Regions from separate parts of the Homo sapiens genome. Here regions 2, 3, 4 and 5 are each linked to region 1. Evidence: fine-mapped expression QTL. A gene starts in region 1. Each other region holds a variant in brackets. All regions are shown on one strand. Distances are between the middles of the regions. Region 1 holds the start of STAT6 (signal transducer and activator of transcription 6). Region 2 overlaps LOC124902945 (a long non-coding RNA gene). Region 3 holds the start of R3HDM2 (R3H domain containing 2). Region 4 has its middle 4.8 kb from the start of NEMP1. Region 5 has its middle 16 kb from the start of SDR9C7.

What was found. PIP is the estimated chance that this variant, and not a neighbour inherited with it, causes the effect.
Region 2: its variant is fine-mapped to the expression of STAT6 in whole blood (INTERVAL, PIP 0.92).
Region 3: its variant is fine-mapped to the expression of STAT6 in whole blood (INTERVAL, PIP 0.96).
Region 4: its variant is fine-mapped to the expression of STAT6 in whole blood (INTERVAL, PIP above 0.99).
Region 5: its variant is fine-mapped to the expression of STAT6 in whole blood (TOPMed, PIP above 0.99).

What each region holds. Positions count from the first base shown.
Region 1 is chr12:57,108,485-57,114,672 of GRCh38, reverse strand. It overlaps STAT6 (signal transducer and activator of transcription 6), which reads left to right and starts at 3,311. Exons shown (of 22, transcript NM_003153.5): 1 at 3,311-3,544. It overlaps LOC124902946 (a long non-coding RNA gene), which reads right to left and starts at 3,951. Exons shown (of 2, transcript XR_007063334.1): 1 at 2,832-3,951; 2 at 1,794-2,716. RefSeq lists a silencer at 2,093-2,252 and enhancers at 2,292-3,237, 3,238-4,185.
Region 2 is chr12:56,981,327-56,987,514 of GRCh38, reverse strand. LOC124902945 (a long non-coding RNA gene) reads left to right here. Exons shown (of 4, transcript XR_007063333.1): 3 at 6,088-6,188. It also overlaps the pseudogene LOC390332. Among named protein-coding and RNA genes, the nearest start is that of ACKR5, 10 kb to the left of the region's middle. The variant A/G (reference allele first, on the strand shown) is at 3,790.
Region 3 is chr12:57,426,001-57,432,188 of GRCh38, reverse strand. R3HDM2 (R3H domain containing 2) reads left to right here and starts at 1,146. Exons shown (of 24, transcript NM_001394031.1): 1 at 1,146-1,469. It overlaps R3HDM2-DT (R3HDM2 divergent transcript), which reads right to left and starts at 1,073. Exons shown (of 2, transcript NR_185976.1): 1 at 759-1,073. RefSeq lists a silencer at 1,245-1,714 and an enhancer at 1,895-2,004. The variant C/TC (reference allele first, on the strand shown) is at 2,965.
Region 4 is chr12:57,080,535-57,086,722 of GRCh38, reverse strand. It overlaps a transcript of NEMP1 not described here. Among named protein-coding and RNA genes, the nearest start is that of NEMP1, 4.8 kb to the right of the region's middle. The variant AAACAG/G (reference allele first, on the strand shown) is at 2,764.
Region 5 is chr12:56,915,342-56,921,529 of GRCh38, reverse strand. No RefSeq gene overlaps it. Among named protein-coding and RNA genes, the nearest start is that of SDR9C7, 16 kb to the left of the region's middle. The variant T/A (reference allele first, on the strand shown) is at 2,826.

The DNA of each region.
Region 1 (6,188 bases):
TTCAAAGAGTGAAGGTCAAGACACTGTTTTTTTTTATGTTTTGTTTTTAATTTTGTTTTAAATTTTTTTTGTAGAGATGGGATCTTGCTATGTTGCCCAGGCTGGTCTCGAACTCCTGGCCTCCAGCAATCCTCCTGCCTCAGCCTCCCAGAGTATTGGGATTACAGGTGTGAGCCATTGTGCTTGATCAAGATGCTGTTATGGGCTGAGTTGTGTTCCTCAAAAATTCTCTTGAAGTCCTAATCTCAAGTACTTCAGGACGTGACCTTATTTTGAAGGACCCCCTTATAGGGTCTTTACAGAGGTAATTAAGTTAAAATGAGGCCATTAGGATGGGGCCTAATGCAATATGACTGGTATCCTTGAAAAAAGGGGAAACTTGGAGACTGACTTGCATACAAAGAGAACAGTGTGTGAACGTGAAAATGGCCAAGGAGGGAGGCCTGGAATAGAGCCTTCCTTCACATCCCTGAGAAGGAATCAATCAATCCTGCTCAGGTTAACCTTGATCTTGGACTTCTAGCCTCCAGCATCTTGAGAGATTTCTGTTGTTTAAGTCATGCAATATGTAGTACTTTGTTACAGCAGCCCTAGCAAACTGATACACTCACCAAATCGATTTTGTGACTCACTATTGGGTTGTAACCAGCAGTACATAGACATAAAGTTATTTTTTCCTTACGCTTTATCTTGTGCAATCGTGTGTGTGTGTGTGTGTGTGTGTGTGTGTGTGTGTGTGTGTGTGACGGAGTCTTGTTCTGTCACCAGGCTGGAGTGCAGTGGCTTGATCTCGGCTCACTATAATCTCTGCCTTCCAGATTCAAGTGATTTCCCTGCCTCAGCCTCCTGAGTAGCTGGGACTACAGGCGCGCACCACCACGCCCGACTAATTTTTTGTATTTTTAGTAGAGACGGGGTTTCACCATGTTGGCCAGGATGGTCTCAATCTCCTGACCTTGTGATCTGCCTGCCTCAGCCTCCCAAAGTGCTGGGATTACAGGCGTGAGCCTCTCTTGTGCAATCTTTACCACCACTCAATGGGATGTCAAGGTCCAGGGGAGGGTGATACAGTCACCCTCACAGTCATGCAGGTGCAGATGTCATTAATGAAGGTCTGACAGACCCTGCAATTGTACAATCTGAAGATGAGTATCTCCTTAAATTTCATACTCTAGGCACTTTACCCTAGCCTAGACTCTGTTGAAGTAGGTATAACTATTATTCTCATTTGAGGGATTGACACCTGATTGTGAACCTCCTAAATGGAGTCATACCCAAGCCAGATTTGCCTCTAAATTCTGTTTTTTCCCCTTACATCACAGTGTTCCCATTGGTATAGTCAGTTACAGAGGGAGTAATATATACTATTTTTCTACCAGTACTTGCTCCTCGCCTTCCTACCCCCTAAAAGGAGCCAAAGTCAGAGATCACATTTACTCTTTTCCCTCCTCCTCTCCAAGTCTTTGGGGACTTGTAGCTCTGACACCCTTAGATGGTGAAACCTGGCTTCACCTACTGTCTGTGGATGTCTGCAGGCAGAGTGGGCACTCGGGAGCACATACAAAGCACGTGTGCCGTGAACACGTATGTGCACACACCTTGATCCTAGCATGGCTTGTTGGACAAGCCAATGGACAGAGTCCCTGCCTGCCACCTCCACCCCTGCTCTCCCTTCTCTTCCATTCACTGTCCTGCAGACACAGCAAACACATACGCACATACACCCTCAATATCCTTTTGGCAGTAACATGACCCCCAAATCTGGGGACTTCTATGTAGGATGGAGACCCTTCTCCTTTCCTCATACCTGGTTTATTATGAACCATAAAAATAGTGCCTGACAGTTACTGTGTGTCAGGCATTGTTCTAAGCCTTCAGATGTTTTACTGCATTTTATTCTCACATTATGGGTTAAGACTTATTTGCTCCATTTTACAGATGACGAGAATGAATCACAGAGTAAATTGCTCAGGGTTGTGTGGTTAGCAGCATTAGCAGGATTTGAACCCAAGCAGCCTGTATCCACAGTCCAGTCTTTTAACTGCTATATTTTGCTGTGTTCAAACCCTCTGCTGCCTGGCTGGGTCCACACACGTGCACTCATGTACAGACCTGCGGGGTAGCAAGGGATGGAGGAGGAGGAGCTGGTTCTGGAAATCAATTCAGGCACCAGGGGGCAGCATAGGCCTAGCTTTGGCCCCTCAGCCCAGCCCCTGCTATGGGAGGGAGGAGGGGAGTAGAAACTTCCTCCCACCGCCCCTCAGACACCACCTCTTCCACACACCGGGGCTCTCAGGTGTCCGGGAGTAAAGGCCTCTCTGGATCCCTTGGTCTCCTCCAGCTCCTCCCCCAGCAAAAACTGCAGAACCCTCCACTAGTTATGTTGATGACTCAGAAGTTGAGCAAGACTGTGTGTGTGTGTGTGTGTGTGTGTGTGTGTGTGTGTGTGTGGTGTTGTGATTGCAATGGGCTCTGTTTGTGAGCCTGCCTGCACGTGTGTGTGTGTGTGTGTGTGTGTGTGTGTGTAGTCTTGTGGTCAGGGAAGTTGTGCATGTGTGTGTTTGTTTCTTGGCGTGTCTCAGTGTTTACCCCAGAAACATATAGGAACTTGGCAGATAGGAACACAGCAGATTCGTATTCAAACTTGCCCCTTGTGAATCTGCAGGCAGCAGCTCCGGCTTGTGCTGGTTCCCACCACAGTCTCAGGAGGGGTGCCCTGTGAGGAGAGAGCAAAGACCAGCTTCAGTCCAAGGGACTCCTAGAGTCTTCCAGAATTCTGAGCTGAGGGTTCCCCTCCCCCACTCCCTCCCGTCAGTGGTCACGAGACCGACCTCTAAGGCGTTCCCTGCCGGAAGGGAGGGGGACCTAGGAGTTGGCTGGCATCGAGCTCCCTGGCGGCTTTTTAGGGTCCTCCACTGGAGGGAGCGCAGAGTCCAGAGGGATTTACTTTTCCTGAGGCCCTGGGGAGCCCAGTCCCTTGTGGGTCCAAACCCCAGCCCTTGGCAGAGTTTGAGTTTGGGAGCCAGGCAGTTAGGGGTGGCAAATCTCTGTTTGATATTGGGTGACTTTCTGGAGAAAAGCTGATGCTTTTGAGGGGGACAGAGTAAGTGGGGGTCAGCCTCCCCCCAAGCCTGGCTCCAAGGCCTGGACCCCAGTCCTGATCCCCCACGTGTTCCCCCACTCGGCACAGGAGGCACACATATTCACCCCACTTTCTTCCTCTTCCTCCTCCAGCCCACTTTCTCTTCTCTGTGTCGTCAGAGCTCCAGGGAGGGACCTGGGTAGAAGGAGAAGCCGGAAACAGCGGGCTGGGGCAGCCACTGCTTACACTGAAGAGGGAGGACGGGAGAGGAGTGTGTGTGTGTGTGTGTGTGTGTGTGTGTATGTATGTGTGTGCTTTATCTTATTTTTCTTTTTGGTGGTGGTGGTGGAAGGGGGGAGGTGCTAGCAGGGCCAGCCTTGAACTCGCTGGACAGAGCTACAGACCTATGGGGCCTGGAAGTGCCCGCTGAGAAAGGGAGAAGACAGCAGAGGGGTTGCCGAGGTGAGGGGTTGCCTCCGAGGTGGGTGCGGGGGCCTCTATGAGTGCATGGGGGTGGATTCGTGGGGGGAGCTCTCGGGATCCTCCCCTGGCTGGGTGGATGGTCCCCAAGAGATGGTTTCAGCTAGTGTTGGTGGCTGGTGGCACTGGGTTTTAGCAGTTTCGAACTCCTGGAGGAATCTGGGAGGGTCCAGGCCTCAGTACTCCCCTCCCCCATGGGTCACGTTTTCACAGCCTCACCCCTGCACCCCCAGGGCCATGGAAAGTCAGGGAAAGGAGGTGAAGGAGTGCCCCTCTGCCCTGAGTCGGGGGAAGTGGCCGCCCCTCCCTGGAAGGTTGATGCCAGAGGGCAGTGGATCCTTGTTAAACCCCTATCCTGCCCTCCACTAAAGGTTCCTGTTCAAGGGTGTGGCTGGGGCGTGAGCAAGCCCCAGATGTAGACCTCATGGTGGCCCAGACGAGGGGGAATTTCCCCCTCAAAACTGCTCCACGCTTGGCTGCTGTAGACGCTGAGATTTCCCAGCGGCGGCGCCGAGTTAACCCTCCTCGTGCTGAACTGGCTCCACCTCCCCGCCTGCCCCCACCGCCACATTCACGCATTGGGCAACTCAGAGAAGCTGTTTTAACTTTCGATCCTGTGGTCCCACAATCAGAGGACTCGGGCAGATAGGGGTTGAGATAAGCGAGTTTAGGCCACCAAGCGGGCGGACGAGGATCCCAGACCTTGCGCTTCCCTTCTGAGTTTGGGAGGTAACACTGGCCCCGCCCCTCACGCCGTGGCTCCTCCCTCCCTTCCCCTTCAAGGGGCTGAAGACAAAAGGTGCCCCTGTCCTGGTCAAGCCAATCGACCCAGCCTTGTTATGGGTTGGGGTGGGGAGAAATGTGTCCTCCTGATGGCTGGGGAAGAAGAGGGGTTGGATATTTCTAGCCAGGGCCATGCCAGGAGGCTGGTCACTCTGCAAGGGGATGCAGAGGAAAGCGGTGCCCACTCACTCCAGAGGACCTTTCTCTCTTGGGCTAGAGAAAGGCCTATTGGAGGAACCTGAGCAGGAGGGGTAAGGATTCTGCCTTGAGGAGAAAAGAGCTGGGGTAAGTGGGCACTGGAGGAAAGAGGGGCATGAAGGTCTTGGAGCAGAAACGTCCAGAGAAGGGACCTCTCCATTTTCCATCCCTCTGAGAGGCCTGGGAGAGGTGAGAGGCTGAACGTGCAACAGGAGGACTTGGGGTTACTGGGTTTGGGGAGACCTGGGGAGTTGTCATCCCATCCTCTCCCTCATCTCTGGGAGAGGGATATTATGAGAAACGTGAACTGAGAGGCCCCTGGGAAACCACTGGTTACCCAGTCCTCCCTGAACCTGGAAATGGGGATGCAACCCCCTCTTCTACTTCCCTGTCCCCTCCTCTCCTTTCTACCTGTTTTCGTCTCTCATCTTTGCCTTCTAGCCCTCCAGCTTCCTCTCTCTTCTAGGCTCTTTCCTCCTAGCTTACTAAACCCGCCTTTTTTCCAGTCTCTTCCATCCTCTTCCTTAGTTCTCTCTACTTTCCTTTTCCACCTCTCCTCCTTCAAGTCTCCTCCCACCTTCCCCCACTTCTTAGGATGATCAGATTTGCCCCTGGAAGGGATCCTAACAACACAGTGCGATGGTTAATCCCCACTCAGATTCAAAGCCTGCTTTCCAAACTCACTTACTGAGTGGCCTTGGGCAGAGTAGAGAAACTCCTTAAGCCTCAGTTTCTTCATCTATAAAATGGGATATTATATATTTTAAAAAGTGTCGTGAGGCCTGAAGGAGATAATACACTGAGTGTAATGCCTCATACACAGTAAGTGCTTAACAAATAGTAGCTGTTATTACTCTCCCATCCTCTTCATCATCTAGCCTTGTGGTTTTCATTTTTATTTTATTTCATTTATTTATTTATTTATTTTGAGGCAGAGTCTCTCTCTGTCGCCCAGGCTGGAGTGCAGTGGCTCGATCTCTGCTCACTGCAAGCTCCGCCCCCCAGGTTCACGCCATTCTGTCACCTCAGCCTCCCCAGTAGCTGGGACTACAGGCGCTCGCCACCACGCCCTGCTAATTTTGTTTTTGTATTTTTAGTAGAGATGGGGTTTCACTGTGTTAGCCAGGATGGTCTTGATCTCCTGACCTCGTGATCTGCCCGCCTCGGCCTCCCAAAGCGCTGGGATTACAGGCATGAGCCACTGCGCCTGGCCGAGCCTTGTGGTTTTCAAATTATCTCATGGAGTCCTAGAATTTTGAGAGGTTTGTCTAGGGATGCCTTTGGCGTCAGGAGGTGGGGAGAGGGAAGTAGAAGCAGTCGAGTTTCAGGCTTTCCATGCTTGCTTTCAACAGGGCATCTTCGGTTTCGTACCTTTTATGTAATTGAGATTCCACAGATTAAAAGCTGACATTGCCTACCGCTTTAAAAAGTTTGGAAAGTTTTCCACTCATCTAACACTCATATTTTATAGATGAGAAGATCGAAGCCCACAAAGGGAAGGCTCTTTGCCCACAGAACCAGAGCCAGGTCTAGAGCTGCAACTAAATCCTCTGCCACTCTAAGAGAGCTCTCGCTCTACTGCCCTGTCTCCCTTTGCCTCCCCATCCCTCTGGCTACAGCTCAGCTCTTCCCACCCCTGTGTCTA
Region 2 (6,188 bases), 130 kb after region 1:
TCCTGCCCACCAGTTATGAAATAGTTTCCTCGACCTCACACCGAGGGACCCTCCATGGACAGCAGAGGTCCAGTCTGTACCCCTTTCTGTAGTCTCCTGAGAAGGAGATCCCTCCTGTCCATCAACACCCTGATACAAACTGAAGTAATACCTTTACAGTTACTAGGGTTCATATCCTTCCCTGCTTGGGCAAGGTTTTGGACCACCATCCTCATTGTCCTTGTTCAAATGAGCAATGTTTTTAGCCTCTCAGTGTCTGAGGGGTCCAGATCCTGGATGTGGGCCCTGACAGGGGAGGGCAGAGGGCAGTGGAGCCAGCACCCAGGGCATATCAGGAGGTGAGCAGGTGAGCCCTGTGACACCTGCATAAGTCATTCCATTCCCCTTCCCAGCAGCCCTGGGTACTTCCTTCCTGTGGGTTCCAAGGCTCCATTCCCTTCTTTCCCCTTTCTTTACCTGTGAGGTTGGACTCTCCCTGTGGGTGTTCCACATCTTTCTGCCCCAGAAAACTACTGTAGCAGGAGGGGACTTGCTCTTGTTCACTTTTTTGCCTTCTCCTTCTCATCCTAGAGAGCCTGATCGTGCCCTACTTTTCTGGGGAGTGATTGATTCTGGATGCTGGGTGGGATGAGGAAACTCAGGCTCAGAGCAGGATTTCCACTGAATGTGCCTGGAAACCATGTGTAGCTTCCCAGTAAAGTCTGTTTTCTGGGAGACCATGGTCCAGGAGTGTTGGTATACAATGTGTGTTAGGCCGTTCTTGTGTTGCTATAATAAATACCTGAGACTGGGTAATTTATAAAGAAAACAGGTTTAATTGGCTCATGGTTCTGCAGGCTGTACAAGCATGCATCTGCTTGGCTCCTGGTGAGGCATCAGGAAGCTTATAATCACTGCAGAAGTCAAAGGGGGAGCTGATTTGTCACATGGCAAGTGGGAGCAAGAAAGAGAGAGCTGGGGAGGTGCCACACTTTTAAACAACCAGATCCCATCACAACTCATTCCAGTGTCTCCAGGACAGCACCAAGCCATGAGGGATCCACTACCATGACCCAACACCTCCCACCAGCTCCTGCCTCCAATATTGGGGAACGCATTTCAACATGCAATTTTGGTGGCACAAATATCCAAACCATATCACAAGATATGTAGAGACAAGTTCTGACCCTTGTTTGTAGATCAGAGTGGTGTGTTTCATGGTGTGTGTGTGTGGGCCCCTGTGTGGACACCTGAGTAGGCACAGCAAGGCAGAGAGGCATTGGTGGACTAGGGAAGCATTGCTGAGTAGTGATAACTACTCACTGGGCAGAGCTTGGGGTTTGCAGTTGCATGCATGAACACCTGCAAAGGCAGTTGAAAGAGCAGAGAGATGAAGCCAGGATAAAAAATGGTGCAGAAAGACAGTGATCAGAGAGGAAAGTGAGGACTTTCTGCCAAAATGCCTGAGGGCTTCCCTGCCTACCTCAGCCCTCTGTGTTCTTAAGTCCTCCTGTCTGAACAGAGGCCAGACTCTCACTTCACCCCAGCCCGTCTGGGTCTGTCCTCTGCAAAGCCATGTGGCTCTACCTGGCGGTCCTCCTGGGCCTATACTACCTTCTGCACTGGTACTGGGAGAGGCAGGTGGTGAGTCACCTGAGAGACAAGTACGTGTTCATCATGAGCTGTGACTCACGCTTCAGGAAGCTACTGGCCAGACAACTGAATGCACAGGCTTGCGGGAGCTGCATGTAGGACAGAGAAGGGGACCAAGCAGCTGAGGGGCCAGACTTCAGACAGGCTGGAGACGGTGACCATGGACATCACCAAGACAGAGAGCATTGCTGCAGCTGCCCAGTGGGTGAAGGAGTGTGTGGGGGACAGAGGGACCACCTCAATCCCTCCTAGTGCCTGTTTGTTTCTCTTCTCTCTGTGTCACTAGGGGAGACCTAGTGTCTGCTAACTGGGAACATTTCCAGGACTTTTATTTTCGGGGGCTTGAGCTTTCTGTTTTCCAAAGCAGAAGTCCTAGAGTGGTTGTGGCTGGGCCCAGGGTTAGAGGAGTCCAGGCTGTGGTTAGAGCCCAGTCTCTGGATAACGTTGGGTCCTGACGGTTGGCATGAGACCATCGGGGATGGGGCTGGGCAGGATCCAGGCTTCTGATCTCAGCATTCTCTTACTGGTTCCTTCACACTTGTCCCTGTTGAGGGCTTTAAGATGATCTCCGCTTGATTCACGAGGACACTGGGGCTTGGAGAGCTGAAGGGACTTCACATCAAACACCGAGTGATGAATCCTGTTCCTTTTGGGGAAAGGGAGATCATTGATTGCTTTGTTCTGATTGTAAATGGAAAACATGAAGAAATTATAGAAGAGGATAAGATTGGATAGATAGGAGGATAAGATAGGATTTCTCATTGGAGAAATCATAGAAGAGGATGAGAGTGAAACAACATTCCCCCTAATCCCAGCCTCCAGGGTTAATTTCCCTCTACTTTACACATTCTGGGGTCAGCATTTTCATCATCAAGTTTCTTCCCCAACATAACAATCAAGGTCTCCATATTCCAGCATGTGGAGAGGCCATAATTTGTTAAAGGGATTCTATATTGTTGAATGCCGAAGTTTGTTACCCACTTTTCCTGGCATAAATAACATCTCAGTAGCGATTCTCTACCAAGGTTTGTTGACAGGCTTAGCAGTGCTATTCAAGAAAAGTACAACTATTGAATCAAAGAATCCTCATTCCTTCAAGTCCAGGAAAGGTTTCTGAGTAGGGGAAGGGCCACCATTGCAGGCCTTATTGTTTTTCCAATATTCCTAGGGTCAGTCTCCGTCTCCTGTACCCCCCAGCCCTCACCCACTCACACCCCTGCCCCTGCTGGCCTGGAGTCCGTAGTTCTGTAGCTCTGACTACTCCAGATCTTTCATGCTATTAGTTTGCTCCCCTATGTCTTCTGTAGAGTCTTCCCCAAAGCTTGCTGGACCCTATGGGGATAGGGCAGAGGTGGCCTTATGAGATGGTGGGAGGAAAAGGTGGTACTTCCTGGGGCAGAGAGTGCAGTCTGGACACCTGTGTGGCATGAGACCTCTTTCCCTCCTCCCCTCCTGCTCTGGCCATTCAGTCCACAGTGAGCTTTGGGATTCCCAGGTACACAAGGTGACCTTTTCTTCCAGGACAGATATTGCCTTGACATTGATGCAGGTTGTAGCACAGCTTGTCCCCTGATGCCCAGTGCAGGCCTGCTCTCTAACTTCCCCTAGTCTTAGGATTTAAGTGTATCTCTCCTAAACAGGATGCAGAAAGTAATTACTCATGTGTTTTTCTTATTCTTTCCTTTTTCTTTTTCTCTTCTGTCCTTTCCCCTTGGTTTCTCTGTCTTAGCCCATTCCTGTCTTCCTATTTCCTGTCTCTGTCTCTCTCCCCTGGAGAGATATTTGTTGGACCCTCATTCTGTTTTCTCAAGTTCTGTCCATGCACTTCACAGCATTGGCTTTACTGCATGCTGGGTGCCAGGCACTAGGAGCAGAGATGGGAAGGACCACCCCTCACCCCCCAATACCTTGAAATGGGTGCAAACCTTGAAACTCTGAAGCCTCCCCATCCTTGTTTCCTCTCCTCCACTCCTTTCCCTTATTCCATGTAGCACACTTGTTGACTCAATAAATACATTGAACTAGAAAATGAACTTGCACCCTAACTGTGTCCACCTGCACAAACACAAGAGTGATGCTCTCATCTTCTGGCCATCCCAGGACTCTGGGGCCTGGTGAATAACTCTGGCATCTGCCTGCCCTCCAGCTGCAATGAGT[A/G]GTTGATGGAACAGGACTTTGTGACCTGTTGGTCACAAAGTGACCAACTTTGTGATGGAACTGGACATGAACCTGTTGGGGATGATTGATGTGACTCTGATCCTGCTGCCCTAATGAGGAAGGCCAGGGGCTGCATGGTCAACCTCTCCAGCATCGCAGGCCGGGTTTCACTTTTTGGTGCAGGCTACTGCATCTCCAAGTACAGCGTGGAGGCCTTCTCCGACTCCCTCTGGTATTGGCCTGGGACAGGGCCCTCCCTCATCCTCCTGCACCTGTTCTTCTGTGGGAACCATTTGCAGTAGTTTTATGTAATTGTAGCCTTAGAGGCCCCTTATTGAGATCCCTCTCTCTCATCCTGTGTGTGCTGTTGCCCTTATGGATTTAGCCAGCCACTTCTTGGGAACAGCTTCTCCATGTTCTGGGGAGGGAGGGGCCCCAGACCAAACAGTTCCTGTAACTCACCTTTGACCCTATTGAGGGGGTCCCATAGGCAGAAAATGTCTGAGGCAGACTGGAACTGACATGTTTGGCTCCAGAGCCCAGAATGAAGCCACTGTGACATGCAGTTGCAGGGAGCCTAGGAGACATGGGGTGAGCATCTTAGTCCATACAACAGACTTTTTAGGCCCTTGGATGAGTGCCCAATAAACTCAGCCCAGGACAGCAACAGGGTTTTGGCCCTGACCTAAAAGCTCTGACACCTGAGAGAGGAGCAAGAGAGCCAGAACCATTGTTGCCAGTTCTCAAAGGGGTTGTGACCCAGTCAGCCCTGGTGGCCATGGCAGCCTCCTGGATTGGGGAAGCTCCTGGAGATGGGGTCTGAGCTGGAGATTGAGGATCCCCACCTGGCAGCCTTGGACAGAAATGGGGGAATGACTTTTGTCTTCAGCCCAGGCCTAGGGGGAGCCTCAGCTGCCTGCCTGTGCTGTGGGGTCCTCATGAGGTGAAGCACAGGGCCAGGCCTGTGGAGGAGGCTGGGCAGGTGGGCGCATATGGGCTCGTGGAGGCCCTGGACAGGAGCTGTGCCTCATACTGTTGGCAGTGGAACCCCCAAAAAAGGGATTTGCTCAGGGGAGCTCTTTGGTCTAATCGGCTTCTAGACACCCACTTACTGCAGGGAGCCCAGTGGCTGTGAGTGTGGGGAGCCAGACTGAAGGCAGAGGGACGCTCCTTAGAGGACAGCTGCCATCACCCAGCTCAGAGGCCAGGGAGATTCCTGGGGCAGGAGAAGAAGGGAGGGGACTGAGGACTGCAGAGGAGGTAGAATGTGGGAATTCTGGTGATCCATTGGATGTGAGGGGCATAGGAGGTGATAGCACTGAGATGCTGCCTTGCTCTTGAACTGGTAGGACTTAGGGCTAGTAAGCTTTGGTATGTAAAATATGGAAACCCCAGAGAGAGGCAAGGCCACCATCATAACTTTTATCTGCTATCTGCTGCCCTTCCCAACTCTCCAAGCTTTCTTGCATCTCCCACTGTCGTTGCATGCTGGGTTTGTATTGGGTTTCTTTGTTTTTTGTATTTTGCCTCCCAAAATTTCTTAAGTCCTTGCCCTTCTGCATGTCTGCCATGCAGGAGGGAGCTCTCCCACTTTGGAGTGAAGGTGTCTGTGATTGAACCTGGTCACTTCAGGACCAGTATGGCCGGCTCTGAGAGGCATTTACAGAACCTCAAGGAGCTGTCGGACTAGGCCAGCCCCGAGGTCAAGGAGACGTATGGGGAGAAGTTTCTGATATCCCGTGAGTGAGCTGTGGACAGTGGGGAGATAAAGAAATCCTTGTCTAGAAGTCTGGGTCCATCATTAGTGCCTCCAACAGTATGAGAATCTGTCCTCCAAACTCTGCCTCCCCAACAAAGTGAGGACATTTAGTCCATTTAGCTGTGTGGTCAACTGGTCACCTAAAAGAAGAATTGAAGCTCCTATAATTGAAACCACTGGCTAATCTGAACCTCTCGTTATTTTGAAGAGGAAACTAAAGCCAGAGAGGGTGGACACCTGTGGGCTCATGGGCAGCTGGGTTTAGAGACAGCTGATTTTCATGTTCTTAGGCTGTTAGTAGAGACCTTCAATTTATGCAGTCCAGATATCTCAGGAAGAGAGGCAGAGGGGGCTTAGTGTGGAACAGGTTTTGCTGCAGTGAGGGTTGGGGCACTCCCTGGGGAATATGGGTGGATTAGACTTGAGGCATATCATTGAGGGGCCCAGGGATTCTTAGACACTCTCCTTCCAATTCAGAGCTCTAAATGGGAGGGGAGGGATGTGCTAGTACATTAAGGATGTTTTCTCATTCTGAACAGGCCTCAGAAAAGCACCTAGGAGCCTTTGGTCAAAATGCAATACAAATCTATCATTGGTGACTGACTGCATGGAGCATGTGCTGACCGCCTGCCACCCCTGC
Region 3 (6,188 bases), 320 kb before region 1:
GTCTCTACTAAAAATACAAAAAATAGCCGGGTGTGATGGTGCGTGCCTGTAGTCCCAGCTACTCCGGACGCTGAGGCAGGAGAATCACTTGAACCTGAGAGGTGAAGGTTGTAGTGAACCGACATTGCACCACTGCAATCTAGTTGCCTGGGTGACAAAGCGAGACCCCATCTCAAAATAAATAAAACAAACAAACAAACAAACAAAAAACGCCAACCAACCTGGAACTTGCTCATCCTTGAAGGAAAGATGAACTTCATGCCTCTATGACTTTGCTGGAATCTCCATTCTTACCTCTCTAGTGAACTATTTATAGTCTCAAGATTAGCTGGAGTTTCACCTGTAGTTTCTCTGTAACTTACTCAATCTCTTTTACCGCTAAGAACGAATTGCTGTTCCTTGTGTTTCCATAGCACATTTAAACCTTTCTATTATAGCACTTAAATTGTACTATAATTATTTGACTTTTTTTGCCTACCGCAGTTTCTGTCACAAGGTAAATATTTAATGGTCGAATTCTACAAAAGACTACATTGCTTCTTTGAGGGAGTTTGGTCAGTAAATTATCCACACACACATAATCAATAACTAAATTGATTCTGCCTAGAATGGACAAAACGGGGGAGGCTGGACATTTAAGACGATTTTTGAGAACTGTATCTTAGAGAGGGGATGATGGTAAGAATGTGATCTTAATAGGACAGACTGAGTTCCTCCTAGGTCGGTTTTTTTCATCTTTACGTAAAATGGACATTTACCTGCTCAACTATAGTTATCCACGTATGCAACAAATACCGAGTGTACGTTCTTTTGGTACAGGAGTTACTGCCCTAAGTGAAAGTGCTCTGTAAATGGAAATTACTTTAGAATGATCACTATTAGTATTATATTGAAATCCAGGGTATTCTATCTGACAGACTTGAAGGGTTTAAGGAGGACCGAGGCTCCCAGTGACTCCGGATTGGTGTCCTGACACAGGTAACGCGGAAGGAGGAGAGGGCGAGCGAGCGAGTGCGAGTGCGCGCGCGCCGGCGGGAGTGCGTGCGGCAGGCGGTAGGCCCCGCAGGGCTGCTGAGGGGCACGCGGGAAGCCAGGAAGCAGGGACGGCCGGAACGCAGGACGAGGTGACGACAACGCCGGACGTAGTGACGTAGCGCGCAGCCGCAGCGGGGGGCGGACTCTGGGCTTTTCTTCCCCTTCTGATTTTCCCCTCCCCCCTTTTCTCCCTTTCCGGGTTTGGTTCCCCCCTTTTCTTCCCCTCTCCCCCCTCCTTCCCAAGCCCCTTTCCCCTCCCCCGTCCCAGTCCCCCCTGCTTCCCAGCCCTCGGCCCCGGGGAAGCCCCGGCCGAGAAAAGCCCGCCCCCAGAAGCGCGCCGCCGCCGGCCGTCGGGGCCGAGCCGCAGCCGAGCGGCCGTGGGCCCGGGCGGCGGGCGGAGACGTGGGCGCCCTCCCCGCCAAGGCCCGTGCGAGGTGAGGCCACCTCCCGGCCGAGGGGGCGGGCGGCCCGGACGGCCTGTGGGGAGGGGGCGTGGCGGCCGCACGGGCGGGCGCGAGGAGGCCCCGCGGCCTGGGTTCCTCGCGCCCGGCAGCCGGTCCCGGGGACGATGGGTCAGGGTCGGATGGCCGCGGGAAGGACTGCTCCAAGTGTGCGCTGCTGGAGAGAAGCTGGGGGCGCGGGGCGGAGGGCGGCGGTGCGGGGGCAGGGGGGTGGCGCCACCTGTGGCCTTTGCGGGGTGACCTAAAAACTATTGCGCCCTTCCAGTGCTTCGGGGTGGCTAGCTCCGTGTGTTTCTTGGGTGGCGGTTTTCCTTCGAGCGTGGAGCATGGAAAAATAGGACGGAGAGGTGTAGAAGTGTTTAAAATCATGCTGGTGTCCAGGTTTCTTACAGGGACGGGGATTTGAGTTGGCACATACAGGGAGATGTTTCTATAGCTTAAAACTTGGGCCTACACTAAGCTCATAACTACTCGAGCCCCTGAAAACGCTTCGATTCGTTTTCCCGTAGAGCTAACATTTTTCAACATTTGTGGCCATTAAGTCTCGGAACTACCAGGAATACTGACTTAGAGTGAATTGTCATTGGATAATGATGAGAAATGACCGAATAACAATCCCAGAACTGCGTTAAAACGGAAGAAAGAAAAGTGGAAAAGTTTGAATTCAGATCCCAGTTGGATGAATATCCTTGTACATAATGTTGTTCAAATAGATAACTAAGATTGAGAAGCCTGAGTCCTGTCTGATATGCGTAAGCCACGTGGAGACTCAAGGAAGGAGGAAAGTGACAGGTTTCACTTCAGGAATATCACAAATTCCTAGCATTTTCTTGTATTTTTAGATAGATTTGCAGTTGAATTATTTGTGGCTCTTCTTCCTAATGCTTTTTTTTGTTGTTGTTCCACCAATATTCCCCCCCCACCCCCGCCCCCCTTTTTGTTGCTGGGGTATCAAGACAAAAGGTTGTATTTTGTTTTTTGAGACAGGGTCTCAGTCTGTCACCCAGAATGGAGTGTAGTGGTTCCTTTTCGGCTCAATGCAACCTCTGCCTCCTGGCCTCAAGCCGTCCTCCTACCTCAGTCCCCCAAGTAGCTGGGAGTACAGGCATGAGCCACCACTCCTGGCTGATTTTTGTAGAGACGGGTTTCACCTTGCTGCCCAGGCTGGTCTGGAACTCCTGGGCTCAAGTGATCCACCTGCCTTGGCCTCCCAAAGTGGTAGGCTTGAGCCACCGCGCCGGGAAAGACAAAAAGTTTAAATAGTGGTGAAAAGTGGCCGGTTAGATTAATTCAGTTCAGTTTTTAGTTGTATTTTTCTTACCCTGTTGCTGTTCTCCAGAGAGTTGAGAGAAAAGATAACTTTTTTCTTGAAGGCCTGATGAACTCCTAACAAGTTAAATTTCAGAGTTGAAGTTCCATTTGTCTTTGTGTCCATTATATGATTAGTAGAGCTTCACAATTTTTTTTT[C/TC]GTAGGGATGGGATCTTGCTATGTTGCCCAGGCTGGTTTTGAACTCCTGGCCTCAAGTGATCCTCTGGCCTCAGACTCCCAAAAGCACTGGGATTACAGGCGTGAGCCATTGCTCTTGGCAGAGCTTCACAATGTAAAGTTTTAAAAAAATTTGACAAATAAAAATAGCATGCCTGACTGGCCGGGCACGGTGGCTCATGCTGTAATCGCAGCACTTTGGGAGGCGAAGGCAGGTGGATCACCTGAGGTCAGGAGTTTGAGACCAGCCTGGCCAACATGGTGGAACCCCGTCTCTACTAAAAATACAAAAAGTAGCCAGGCGTGGTGGCAGGCACCTGTAATCTCAGCTTCTTGGCAGGCTGAGGTGGGAGAATCATTTGAACCCAGGAGGCGGATTTTGCAGTAAGCCAAGATCGTGCCACTGTACTCCAGCCTAGGCAACAGAGCGAGAGACTGTCTCAAAAAAAAAAAAAAAATAATAGCATGCCTAATATTTTTTAATGGAAAATTAAGACAGGAGATGGCTTCCTTTCTCTTTCAAAATAAAAACCAATGTTACTTTTTGTTGTTGTTGTTCTTTCTCGCTATGTCACCCAGGGTGGAGCGCAGTGGTGCAATCTCGGCTCACTGCAAGCTCTGTCTCCTGGGTAAATGCCATTCTCCTGCCTCAGCCTCCTGGGTAGCTGGGACTACAGGTGCCCCCCCACCACGCCCCCCACCACACCCCCCACCATACCCGGCTAATGTTTTGTATTTTTAGTAGAGACGGGTTTCACTGTGTTAGCCAGGATGGTCTCGATCTCCTGACCTCGTGATCTGCCCACCTCGGCCTCCCAAAGTGCTGGGATTACAGGCATGAGCCACCGCGCCCAGCCAAACCAATCTTAGCTTTAAAGCTCTAGATCTGTGGCACCCTTTTCCCCTAACATGCACACTGGCCTCTGGCTGTTCCTTGAGCACACTAGGCACACTTCTGCCTCAGGGTCTATGCTCTTGTTTCCTCTTCCTGAGTTACTTTTCTCTTACAAAGCTGTGTAAGAGCATAGCCTGTCTGTCCCCTCATCTCCTTCAGGTCTTTACTCAAATTTCACTCTTTTTTTTTTTTGAGATGGAGTCTCGCTCTGTCACCCAGGCTGGAGTGCAGTGGCATGATCTCGGCTCACTGCAACCTCTACCTCCTGGGTTCAAGCGATTCTCCTGCCTCAGCCCCCTGAGTAGCTGGGATTACAGGTGCCTGCCACCATGCCTGGCTAATTTTTTTGTATTTTTAGTACACACAGGGTTTCACTATATGTTGGCCAGGCTGGTCTTCAACTCCTGACCCTAAGTGATCCACCCACCTCCACCTCCCAAAGTGTAATCCCAAAGTGTAGGGATTACAGGTGTGAGCCACTGCGCCTGGCCCAAATGTCACTCTTAACACTGATATTCCCTTGGCTATCTGGATGGCAAAGCCCCTCCTGCATACACATTTACATAACTCTCTATCCCCCTTTTCTGCTTTATTTTCTGCCTTAACCCTTATCAACCTATAACGTATTATATATTTTAATCTCCCCTAGTAGAAAGCTTCAGGGCCAGGCGCAGTGGCTCACACCTATAGTCCCAGCACTTTGGGAGGCCAAGGACGGGGCATCACCAGAGGTTAGAAGTTCGAGACCAGCCTGGCCAACATGGTGAAACCCCATCTCTACTAAAAATACAAAAATTAGCTGGGTGTGGTGGTACACGCCTGTAGTCCCAGCTACTTGGGAGGCTGAGGCAGGAGAGTGGCTTGAACCTGGGAGGCTGAGGTTGCAGTGAGCTGAGATCGTGCCACTGCACTCCAGCCTGGGCAACAGACTGAGACTTTGTCTCAAAAAAAAAAAAGCTTCAGGAGAGCAGGCATTTTTGTTTTATTTATTTTATTTTATTATTATTTATTTATTTTTTTTGAGACAGAACCTCTGTCTGTCGCCCAGGCTGGAGTGCAGTGGCACGATGTCAGCTCACTGCAACCTCCACCTCCCGGGTTCAAGTGATTGTCCTGCCTCAGCCTCCTGAGTAGCTAGGATTACAGGCACGCGCCACCACGTCCAACTAATTTTTGTATTTTTAGTAGAGATGGTGTTTCACCGTGTTGGTCAGGCTGGTCTTGAACTCCTGACCTGGTGATCCTCCTGCCTCGGCCTCCCAAAGTGCTGGGATTGTAGGCGTGAGCCTCTGTGCCCAGCCACATTTTTGTTTTATTAATTTCCGTATCCTCAGCACTTAGCACAGCACTTGATGTTCAGTAAAGTGCACAACAGATTTATTGACTGAGTAGGTAAGGAGGAGTTTTTTCCTTGAACTCTTTCCATGAATTTTTCATCGTGATTAGTTGTCCTTGGAAGGGTGGGATGGGTTTTCACTAGGAAAACCTGGTTTTCTAAGGTACTCATTGAGAGATGTTGAGATGTTTTTTCTGGGGATGTTTCTCTTTGGACAAACATCTCGTGCTTTGGGGCCATTGAATGAAAATACTCTGAGGGCAGAGAAGAGGATGGAGTGTGGAAGTCTTTGGTATTGGTAGTCTTATCTCAGATTTATTGTGGCTAGAATTTTTACCTACTTCATGCTCTTCCCTTGAGGTTTGTTCATGTCCCTTCCAAGACAAATATCACTCGTTACTTCTCTGACCCTACCTAGCTGAGCAGGCTGGTTCCACTTTGAGTTTTCAGTAGCCTGAAGATGTTAATATTTATAGTTCTGTCTTTATGGGCTAGTTCCTACCCTCAACCCCACCAATTCATGTAGAGACAGTTGAGCTTAAAAACTTTAAGAATAGGTTTCTCTAACAATGGTAGAATGTTCAGTTCTAGAGAACACTTGATCCTTTTTTCACAGATTGATTTTGGGGGGCATTTTTAGCAACTAAATCTATGCTAAGTTTGAGGATAAAAAGGAGCAGGCACCCTAAATTCTGTGGGTTATCCCTCATTTTATCTTTCCTTAATTAATTAATTAATTTATTTTTTTGAGATGGAGTCTCGCTCTGTCGCCCAAGCTGGAGTGCAATGGTGTGATCTTGGCTCACTGCAACCTCTGCCTCCTGGATTCAAGGGATTCTCCTACCTCAGCCTCCCAAGTAGCTGGGATTACAGGCATCGGCTACCACGCCTGGATAATTTTTGTATTTTTAGTAGATACAGGGTTCTGTCATGTTGGCCAGGCCACTCTCGAACTCCTAACCTCAGGTGATCTGC
Region 4 (6,188 bases), 28 kb after region 1:
AGCCCGCAGCCAGAGCTGCCGAGATGTCTGTTCTTCCCGCCCACTCCTGCCACCCCCAACTCCCCTCCTACTCCCTTCCGTTGAGAACAAGGAATTTCCAGCCTGTAGCAAAGGGAAAGAGGCAAAGACAAAGACGGAGACCATGGGAAACTATAGAAAAACATAAAGAGACAGGTGTGTGTGTGGGGGGGGGGGAGTGGTGACAAAAAGGGAGTGGGGACAAATACAAAAATTTTCATTTGTTTCCTGCATGGGACCTGTTCTCCCCTGTGTCCCCTTGGCTCACTCAAAGAAGGACCACTTCTGTGCCTGACTCACCTGCTCTCCCCATCCCCAGTGCTCTCAAAGACAGACCAGAGGAACTGATCTCGTGATAAAAAGGATTAATATTCTTTTATCTGTGCTGGTCTCCTCCGTGAAGGGAAACAGTATCCTCAGTCCTAGTTTTCCAAGAAAAGGGGAAACGATTGCGAGGAAAGGGAGGAAAGTGGGCGGAAGAGGAGTGCAGAGACTGTCGTCCCTACGCGCACGTGTAGATTTTCATCTAGCAGATTGCTCTGCTCACTCCTCCCCCAACGTCTCCACTGGGCCAGATCCGACTCACTCAGCAAGGTTTGGCTCACCCTCTCCTTCCTGGACCCCTTCCACTCCTCCAGGCAGAATTAATTCCTCCCACCCCTCGGTGGCCTCCTCATTGCTCTTTGTACACATTTCCAATTATAGTTGCTTGTTTCAGCCGAAATCCAGGACCTCTCCAGGATAGGCCTGTTATCTGGTGGACCCTCTGAAATGAATAAATTGATCCTATTCACAGGCCTGTGCAACTTTGAAAGGGCACATGACACAGATTTTACTCCCAAAGGGGCTGAGCCTGGGCAAAACTGTTTAAGTGAAGACATTTGTTTTCCATATCTCTTTCCCTTGTAAAGTTTCCAGTGAGTCCCACAAATCTGGCTCCTTGGCCTTCTAAAATGTCCACCATTCTGGTAAATTAATTCACACTCAGATGCTAAAGGTAGTAGGCCGAAGTCCTGGCTGGTAATAGAAAAGTATAAAGTAATGATCCCTTTTTTCTCTTTCAGTAACATGGCAGAATTTATCATCTAAGGAATGTTGTCCTTCAAGTTAGTTATTTTACAAGAAATGTTTCACTCCTGAAAGACAGATAATCCTAACCACTGCCTTTAAGGAGCTCACAGACTAATAGGGGAAATAGACCTATAAACGAATAATTACAACATAGTGCAATAATATGGGTACAACAATGACAGAAGTATAAGAGGGTGAGTGATCTGTTCTGCTTGGAGTTGTGAGGGGCCTTGGTTTAGACAGGCATCCAAAGGAGGTGATGATGCAGTCAGTATGAGATTTCCAGGAGTGGCCAGGGCGGTGGCTCACACCTGTAATCATAGCACTTCAGGAGGCTGAGGTGGGAGGAACATTTGAGCCCAGAAGTTGAAGGCTGCAGTGAGCCTTGATGGCGCCACTGCATCCCTGCACCACAGAGCAAAAAGTGAGTCTCAAAAACAAAAAACAAAAACAAAAACAAAAATTCTAGGAGGAAGGGAAGTCAAGTCAGAGAGGCCAGAAAGTGCATTTCCATGGAGGTGGAGGTATGAAACAGAGTGATATGTTTCAGAAACTATAAAAGGTTGTTCATTATTGCTGGGTGGTGGGTGGAGCTGGTTAGAAACGAGCCTAGGGAGGTGTACAGGTACATTACATTAAAAATATTTTGGACCAGTGCTTTTCAAAGTATGGTTAAGGACCAATTTTTAAAACATTTCCAATCTATTATTGTCCACTACTTTTGTAGAATGCACTAAAAATGAATTATTCAAAAAACAAAATAAACTACCATTTTGTTAGATTCAATAAATATAAAATTTCTCTGTCAAATTCCTATAAAACTTTCTAAATGCTTACACTTAATTTCTGAAATTGTTTCATTACAGATTGGTGACAAACATTGAATAACATTATTATAGTTATTTGTGTCTTTGCCTCTGAGTTTTAGATCATACTAAGGATGTTGGACTTCATCCTGTGGTGTTACTGGAACCATAAAGACTCTGGAAACAAAGACTCATGGCATGGTCAGATCTGCACTTAGGAGCAGAGTGGAGGAAGGATTTATGGCTGCAAAAACAGTAGGAAGGTCAGCTTGAAAAATACTGAAGGACCCTCTCAGTTGAAAGATGGCAAGGCACTGGCATGGGGGGAAAGAACAGATTCAAAATATAGAAAATAAGATCGACAGGACTTGATTGATTGGCTGAGGGGTTGAGAGGAGAGAATGAGGGTTTAGGGTGACTCTCAGGCTCCTAGCTTGGGTGACTGAGTATGTGGAATGGAGTGTTCCTTCTCAAAACTCTGGAATAGCCTTCATCAAATATTCGTGGCCTGCAAATCCTTTATCCACAATTCCTAAATTTAAAAAAATTATGAAAACCAAAAGCTTGACCGGGTACTGTGGTTTATGCCCTTAATCTCAGCACTTTGGGAGGCTGAGGTGGGTGGATCACCTGAGGTCAGGAGTCCAAGACAAGCCGGCCAACATAGCGAAACCCCGTCTCTACTAAAAATACAAAAATTACCTGGGCGTGGTGGCGCATGCCTGTAATCCCAGCTACTCGGGAGGTGGAGGCACGAGAATCGCTTGAACCTGGGAAGCAGAAGTTGCAGTGAGCCGAGATCGCGCCATCGCACTCCAGCCTGGGTGACAGAGTGAGACTCGGTCTCAAAACAAAACAAAACAAAACA[AAACAG/G]AAGAAAACAAAAATTAACTGGGCGTGGTGGCGGGCGCCTGTAATCCCAGCTACTCGGGAGGTGGAGGCATGAGAATCGCTTGAACCTGGGAAGCAGAAGTTGCAGCAAGCTGAGATCACGCCATTGCACTCTGGCCTGGGCGATAAAAGCAAAACTCCGTCTCAAAAACAAAAACAAAATCTTTTTCATAACATATTTGACAATAAAACCTAATCTGAACTGAATTTATTTTGTGGCAGAACCTGACCTAAACTTACATAAGGTTATTTATAGTTTTCACTTTTCCATCTTTCACTTACCACAGTATGAAGTCATATGTGTCATTCCAGAAATATTAATTTGTTTGATTACTGGGTGCTGTCCTGATGCATTGGGATTGTTGCTTTATATTTTGTATATGCACCATACTATCTTTCAAAAATCCAAAAAATTTTGAAACACATTAACCATCCAGATTTCCCACCCCATTTACTCATCAGTGTTGGCCTGAGTTCTTTTGGCTATTTGCATAAATCCAATCCACCTGCAGATAATGAATATTCATTGCATTGTGTGTTATAGACTCTGAAGGAGATTCTTGTTGTTTTGAGCAGTGTCCTCATTAAAACAAAGCTAAAAGCTTCTTGAATGACTATCTTGAAATGACAGCACTCATTTGGATGATAAGTTGTAATGTGTTTATGGACAGCCAGTCTCATTACCATACACTTCATTTATATATTTTAATAGTCAGTGGTCAGTGATCTTCTGAAATTAGTTCCCCTGGATTTGCTTTAGTGAAAACCAAAGAGCAAGCTCTGAATGATGAGAATGGGGCCTGATAAAAAAAAATGAAGTATGTGTATATATATGTGTATATATACCTACACATAAAAAAATACATATACATATCTATACATATATATTAGCCTTTATTTTATTTTATTTATTTATTTTGAGACAGGGTCTCACTCTGTCACCTAGGCTGCACAGTGGTGCAATCACAGCTCATTGCAGTCTTGACTTCCCAGGCTCAGGTGATTCTCCCACGTCAACCTCCCAAGTAGCTGGGACCACAGGTGCATGCCACCACACCTGGCTAATTTTTTTTTTTTTTGTATTCTTTGTAGAGACGGGGTTTCACTATGTTGCCCAGGCTGGTCTCAAACTCCTAGGCTCAAGTGATCCACCTGCCTCGGCCTCCCAAGACATTGGGATTACAGGCATGAGCCACTGCACCTGCCCAATTTATTCATTTTTTTAGCAACAAGGTCTTACTCTGTCACCCAGGGTGGAGTGCAGAGGCATGATCATGGCTCACTGCAGGCTCAACCTCCCAGACTCAAGTGATCGTCCCATCTCAGCCTCCTGAGCAGCTGGGACTACAGGCACGTGCCAACACACTTGGCTAATTTTTGTATTTTTGTAAAGACAGAGTCCTACTATGTTGCCCAGGCTGGTCTTGAATTCCTGGGCTCAAGCCATCCTCAGACCCGGTCTCCTAAAGTGCTGGGATCACAGGTGTGAACCACTGAGGCTAGCCAACTTTATTTTTAGAAACATTACATGTACAGAAAAATTGAAAAGATAATATGGTGAATTCCTATATACCCTACATTCAATTTCCTCAATTATTATCTGACATTAGTATGGTACATTTAGCACCATTAATGAAACAGTATTGAAACATTATTATTAACTAAAGTCTACAGTTTATTCAGATTTCCTTTGAGTTTTTGTTGTTGTTGTTGTTGTTTAGACTGAGTCTTACTCTGTCACCGGGCTGGAGTGCAGTGGCACTGATCTTGGCTCACTGCTGCAACCTCCGCCTCCCAGGTTCAAGTGATTCTCCTGCCTCAGCCTCCTGAGTAGCTGGGTTTACAGGTGCCCGCCATACGCCCAGCTAATTTTTGTATTTTTAGTAGAGACGGGGTTTCACTATGGTGGCCAGGCTGGTCTTGAACTCCTGATCTCGTGATTCGCCCGCCTTGGCCTCCCAAAGTGCTGGGATTACAGGCGTGAGCCACCATGCTCAGCCTCCGTGTTTTTTTTTGTTTTCTTATTTTTTGAGACGGAGTCTTGCTCTGTCGCCCAGGCTGGAGTGCAGTGGAGCGATCTCAGCTCACTGCAAGTTCCGCCTCCCAGGTTCACACCACTCTCCTGCCTCAGCCTCCTGAGTAGCTGGGACTACAGGTACCTGCCACCACGCCCGACTAATTTTTTTTATTTTTAGTAGAGACGGGGTTTCACCATGTTAGCCAGGATGGTCTCCATCTCCTGACCTCATGATCCGCCCGCCTCAGCCTCCCAAAGTGCTGGGATTACAGGCATGAGCCACCGTGCCCAGCCTCGTTTTTTTAAACTAATGTGTTTTTCTGTTCCAGGATCCCATCTAGACCACCACATTATGTTTAGTTCTCAAAAACATAATGGGCTGGGCATGGTGGCTCATGCCTGTAATCCCAGCACTTCGGGAGGCCGAGGCGGGCAAATCACCTGAGGTCGGGAGTTCAAGACCAGCTTGACCAACATGGAGAAACCCCATCTCTACTAAAAATATGAAATTAGCTGGGCGGGGTGGCACACACCTGTAATCCCAGCTACTTGGGAGGCTGAGGCAGGAGAATCGCTTGAACCTGGGAGGGGGAGGTTGCGGTGAGCCAAGTTTGTGCCATTGCACTCCAGCCTGCTCAACAAGAGTGAAACTCTGTCTCAAAAAACAAAAACAAAAAAGCCCATAATGATGTTTGGATGACTTTGACAGCTTTGAGGAGTACTGGTCAGGTATTTTGTAGGATGCCTCTATTGGAATTTGTCTAATGTTTTTCTCAAGATTAGAGTGGTGTTATGGGTTTTGGGAAGGAAAACCACAGAGTTAAAATGCCATTTTCATCTCATGTTATCAAGGGTACATAGTATCAACATGATTGATGCTGACTTCCCTAGGTCAGCTGAGGGAGTGTGTGTGTGAAATACAGGATGACCATATCAGCACTGTTGGCCTAGACTTTTCCTTCTGAGAATGAAATCTCTTCTCTTGCCCATAGCTCAGCCCCATTTTGACTTTTTTTTTTTTTTTTTGAGACAAGAGAGGCTCGCTCTGTCACCCAGGCTGGAGTGAAGTGGCATGATCTCGGCTCACTGCAACCTCTGCCTCCTGGGCTCAAGCAATTCTTCTGTCTCAGACTCCTAAGTAGCTGGGATTACAGGAACCTGCCACCATGCTGGGCTAATTTTTGTATTTTTATTAGAGATAGGGTTTTGCTGTGTTGGCCAGGCTGGTCTCGAACTTCTGGCCTCAAGTGATCCTCCCACCTCAACCTCCCAAAAGTGCTGGGATTACAGGCATGAGCCACCATGCCCAGCCCATTTTGACTTTTTTTTTTTTTCTCTTTTGAGACAGAGTCTTGCTCTGTCACCCAGTCTGGAGTGCAATGGGG
Region 5 (6,188 bases), 190 kb after region 1:
AAGAGATTCACTCTGATGAGATAAGAAGTTGATGTTTGGGGTTCCCAGGACAGGAGGGACCAGGGCCCACTTTCTAGAGCACCTTGGGGGCACACCATGGGGAGGTGACAAGACTCAAGAGAGTCACAGCTACATTGTATGTTTAGGCAGATTCGACTTCAGATGACCTCACAGGAGACTCATGTGTCCCACCATGGCAGGAAGGTAGTAGAAATTTGCTAGATATAAAGGGCATGTAGACTGGAACAGCAGACACTAAAGTGGTAACCTTTAGAAGATAGAAGACTTAATTTTTTGGTCTGAGGGCCATCTCTCCACCTCATCATTAATAGCTGAGGTATTTTTTGAACTTATGAGCTGAGATTCATATATGCTCCAGAGTTACATTTTGGTTGATTTCATATTAGAACCATCACCTTTCTTATATAACTTTTGTATTTTCCTGGAGTTTTGAATTGCCTTTTCTTGTTCATTTATTCAGCTTCTTAATCATTTTTATCTCCATTTTTAAAGTAGGGGAGTAATGTGATCTGATCTATATTTTTAAAAGATCACTGGGGGGCTCTGTGGAGACTGAAATGAAGAAGCAATGGTGGAAGAAAGGAGGCCATTGCATAATCCAGGCAAGAGATGATAGTGCCCTAAGCTGAAATGGTGTTAGCAGAAATGATGCTAATAGATGAAGTCAATATATAATTTGGAGGTAGAACCATTGATGGACTTTAATCATTAGTCAGTCTGTCAAGAAGAATTTATCAGGCTCCTACTATGTGCTAAATGTGGTTCCAGATTCTAGAGTTATAGTGGGGTATAAGACAGAGTCCTTGCCCTCAAAGAGTTTACATTCTAACGGAGGGAGGGGTTGGCCAATAGACATATAAAAAGTGAATGAAATAATTTTATATACTGATAAGTGCCATGGAGAAGAGAAAATATAACAATGTAATAGATGACCAGGGAGGCTGCTTACCTTTTTTTCTAATCAACATTAATGAGGTAAAGTTTGCATAAAAAGAAATGCATCCATCTAAGTGTACCATCTGATGAGTCTTGTCACATGTTTACACCTGTACAACCACCACCAGTCAAAATATAAAACATTTTTCTCATCCTAGAAAGTTCCCTTGTACCTGTCTGCAGTTAATCATCCCTCCTCTCCACCCTGGTTCCAGACAACCACTGATGTGTTTCTGTCACTATAGATTCATTTTGAGACTGCTTACTTTTTAAAAAGACCACTTTTGCTGCCATTGGGGAATGAATTGGAAGAACTGGATTGAAGAGGTGCAAGTCTAGACCTGATAAGAGAAGTGTGACAATAAAATAATAGAAATAAAAATAACTGGCATTTATTGGACATTTATTCAGTCCAAGCACTGCGCTTAGAATTTCCCACATATTATCCATTCAATTTTATTTAATCTCTGCAACAAGTCCTGTGAGGTTACTCCTATGTTATAGAGGAGGAAACTGAGGCTCACAGAGGTAAAGTAATTTGCACAAGATTACACTGCTAATAAATGGCAGAGTCAGAGTGCGGTTCGCCACATGCTACAATAGCAAGCACTTCCAGAGTGCTCACCACATGCCAGACACTGTTCTAAGCACTTTAATTTTCTTTTTTTTAATTTTTTATTTTACTTTAAGTTCTGTGATACATGTGCAGAACCTGCAGGTTTGTTACATAGGTATACATGTGCCATGGTGGTTTGCTGTACCTATTAACCCATCATCCAGGTTTTAAGCCCTGCATACATTAGGTATTTGTCCTAATGCTCTCCCTCCCCTAGCCCCTTACCCTCAGACAGGCCCCAATGTGTGATGTTCCCCTCCCTGTGTCCATGTGTTCTCATTGTTCAACTCCCACTTATGAGTGAGAACATGCAGTGTTTGGTTTTCTCTTCCTGTGTTAGTTTGCTGATAATGATGGCTTCCAGCTTCATCCATGTCCCTGCAAAGGACATGATCTCATTTTTTTAAAATTTTATTATTATTATACTTTAAGTTTTAGGGTACACGTGCACAACGTGCAGGCTTGTTACATATGTATACATGTGCCATGTTGGTGTGCTGCACCCACCAACTCGCCATCTAGCATTAGGTATATCTCCCAATGCTATCCCTCTCCCCTCCCCCCACCCCACAACAGTCCCCGAAGTGTGATGTTCCCCTTCCTGTGTCCATGTGTTCTCATTGTTCAATTCCCACCTATGAGTGAGAACATGTGGTGTTTGGTTTTTTGTCCTTGCGGTAGTTTGCTGAGAATGATGGTTTCCAGTTTCATCCATGTCCCTACAAAGGACATGAACTCTTCATTTTTTATGGCTGCATAGTATTCCATGGTGTATATGTGCCACATTTTCTTAATCCAGTCTATCGTTGTTGGACATTTGGGTTGGTTCCAAGTCTTTGCTATTGTGAATAGTGCCGCAATAAATATAAGTGTGCATGTGTCTTTACAGCAGCATGATTTATAATCCTTTGGGTATATACCCAGTAATGGGATGGCTGGCTCAAATGGTATTTCTAGTTCTAGATCCCTGAGGAATCGCCACACTGACTTCCACAATGGTTGAACTAGTTTACAGTCCCACCAACAGTGTAAAAGTGTTCCTATTTCTCCACATCCTCTCCAGCACCTGTTGTTTCCTGACTTGTTAATGATCGCCATTCTAACTGGTGTGAGATGGTATCTCACTGTGGTTTTGATTTGCATTTCTCTGATGGCCAGTGATGATGAGCATTTTTTAATGTGTCTTTTGGATGCATAAATGTCTTCTTTTGAGAAGTGTCTGTTCATATCCTTCACCCACTTTTTGATGGGG[T/A]TGTTTGTTTTTTTCTTGTAAATTTGTTTGAGTTCATTGTAGATTCTGGATATTAGCCCTTTGTCAGATGAGTAGGTTGCGAAAATTTTCTCCCATTTTGTAGATTGCCCGTTCACTCTGATGGTAGTTTCTTTTGCTGTGCAGAAGCTCTTTAGTTTAATTCGATCCCATTTGTCAATTTTGGCTTTTGTTGCCATTGCTTTTGGTGTTTTAGACATGAAGTCCTTGCCCATGCCTCTGTCCTGAATGGTAATGCCTAGGTTTTCTTCTAGGGTTTTTATGGTTTTATGTCTAACATGTAAGTCTTTAATCCATCTTGAATTAATTTTTGTATAACGTGTAAGGACATGATCTCATTTTTTATGGCTGCATAGTATTCCATTGCGCATACGTGCCACATTTTCTTTATCCAGTCTATCATTGATGGGCATTTGGGTTGGTTCCAAGTCTTTGCTATTGTTAAGTAGTGGTGCAGTAAACATATGTGTGCATGTGTCTTTATAGTAGAATGATTTATCATCCTTTGGGTATATACCCAGGAATGGGATTGCTGGGTCAAATGCTATTTCTGGTTCTGGATCCTTGAGGAATCGCCACACTGTCTTACACTGTCTTCCACAATGGTTGAACTAATTTACACTCTTACCAACAATGTAAAATTGTTCCGATTTCTCCACAGCCTTACCAGCATCTGTTGTTTCAGCACCTTAATTTTCATAACAATCCTGAAAGGTGTTATTACTCCAGTTTTAATGAGAGGAAACTGAGGCCCAGAGAGGGTGATTATAATACATAGCCTATAAGCATCTGGCAGAGCAGATTCTTTGAGTTCTGTAATGCTATTATTTAATTGTTTGTCATTGCTTTATTTCATCCTGGGGAGCATCTCTGTACACATGCATTTGCAGCAGGGTTTTCTGGCCAGCAGCTGTAATGTGGCTTGCTTCTGTTTCCAAGAACTTTCTGAAACCTCTCCTAACTTGCCTTATTTGGGGGCCTCTCCTCCAATTTGTTCCCCGTGAAGACAGGGGCCTCTGTCCTCCAGGGGCTTCTTCCTTTCCTGCGGGACATGCCTGCCTTTCTCAGAAATTTCAGAATCTCAGAAAGTTCCCCGGTCTCCAGTGAACCTCAAACAAAAGGTGAGGAGAGCTGGGTGCAGTGGCTCATGCCTGCACATGGACAGATCACTTGAGCCCAGGAGTGCCAGACCAGCCTGGGCAACATGGCAAGACCCCCATCTCTACAAAAAAATATAAAAAGTTATCCAGTCATAGTGGCGAGCACCTATAGTCCCAGCTACCTGGGAGGCTGAGGTGGGAGCATTGCTTGAGCCCAGGAGGTTGAGACTGCAGTGAGCCATGATCATGCCACTGCACTCTAGCTTGGGCAAGAGGGTAAGACCATGTCTCAAAAGAAAAAAAAAAGAAAGAAAAGAAAAGAAATAGTAAGCGCAAGTGAGAGGAAAGAAGAATTCAGAGGAACATGGGGATCATTGAGCTCCTGCCTGGCTAGCATGTTTGGCATGTTCTTATACAGGAGCAGTGTAAATACTGCCTCTACACCAGAGCAAATGGAAACAGAGGATTTTAATGCCAAACTTGGAGCTGTTAGAAGAAAAATCTGAGCCAAATTACATTGAACAGAGTTTGATTGAGCAAAGAACAATTTGAGAATCAGGCAACCCTGGAACCAAAATAGGTTCAGAGAGACTTCAATCCTGGAAGAAAAGTTACGGAGAGAAAAAGGAAAGTGATGTACAGAAAATGAAGTGAGGTACAGAAACAGCCAGAATGGTAATAGCTCAGTGGGCATTTGCCTTATTTGAACAGTTTGAACAGTTGGCCTCCTTTGATTGACTGAAACTCAGTGATTGGTACAGTCTGTTTTCACAGCCAATTAGGTTACAGTTCATTATACAGAGAAAACTGTATCCCAGACTTAATATATGTAAGGAGGAGCTTTAGGCTAAACTTTTTAACAGAACAACAAGGTGTTCCTTTGAAGCCAAGCATGATGATTAACACCTGTAAACCTAGTGCTTTGGGAGGCTGAGGTGGGAGTAGTACTTGAGGCCGGGAGTTTGAGATCAGCCTGGGCAACATAGTGAGACCCTTGTCTCTACAAAAAGTAATTTTTTTTTTTTTTTAATTAGCTGGGCAGAGTGGCACATACCTGTAGTCCTAGTTACTCAGGAGGCTGAGGTGGGCGGGTCACTTTAGGCCAGGAGGTCAAGGCTGCAGTGAGCTATGATTACATCACTGCATCCAGCCTGGGCAACAGAGCAAGTCTTCATCTTAAAAAAAAATTAAAAAATTTTTTAAAAACTTCCTTTTAGAATTTCTGACATGGAACATGAGGGGGGAGGAATGAAAAAATTGGGTGTGCATATTTAACAGTCAAGGACGAGCTTCAACTGGGAGATGAAAATGCACTACAAGTGGACAATTTTTGAAGGCAGAATTGAGACTTTACTTAGGTGAACTATGAGAGGGCATTGTGTATAAAGAGAGAAATGCCAACTCTTCTTTTTAATTTTGCCAAGTAAGGAAAGATCTGAATTTCTCTTTTTACTGAAGTGAAGGAGAAATCCTTGCATGTGGCTCTGTCACCTTTTCTCTTGAGAGACAGGTGATGGGTGAGCCCTAGCTGGCCCCATAATTTGGCCCTAATTATGGGCCCTGATTAGGGGTCTGAGATTAGTTTCCTCTTCATAGCGACACATCCTTGGGTGGTTCCCAGCCACACGTCTCCTAGCTTTCTCAACAGACCGAAGTTAGAACTGGCTGTCATTGGAGCCGACCTTCAAAAATACTTGGCAGGTGGCCAGGCGCAGGTGGGATTACAGGTGGCTCACACCTGTAATACCAGCACTTTGGGAGACTGAGGCAGACAGATTGCTTGAGCTCAGGAGTTGAAGACCAGCCTGGGCAACATGGCAAAATCCCTACTCTACAAAAAATATAAAAATTAACTGGGTGTAGTGGTGGCATGCACCTGTAGTTCCAGCTACTCAGGAGGCTGAGGTGGGAGGATCACCTGAGCCCAGGAGTTTGAGGCTGCAGTAAGCCAAGATCACATCCCTGCATTCCAGTCTCGGCAACAGAGTGAGACCCTGTCCCAAAAACAAAAAACAAACAAACAAAAAACCTGGCAGGTGACAATCTGAAACCAAGGGCTTAGTTTGCAATTTGATCAGGTCTGCCTGCCCTGCTTACTTTTGGTCCCTTGCTTTTTGTTATTCTTTCTTCCTTTATCCGTGAACCTGAAGGCCCCAGTATAGCTGAAGGCTGTTGCTGGATGCTGAATCTTAACCTTTACTGACTATTTGATAGCATTCATAGGTCACCATGGTAATAGTCACTT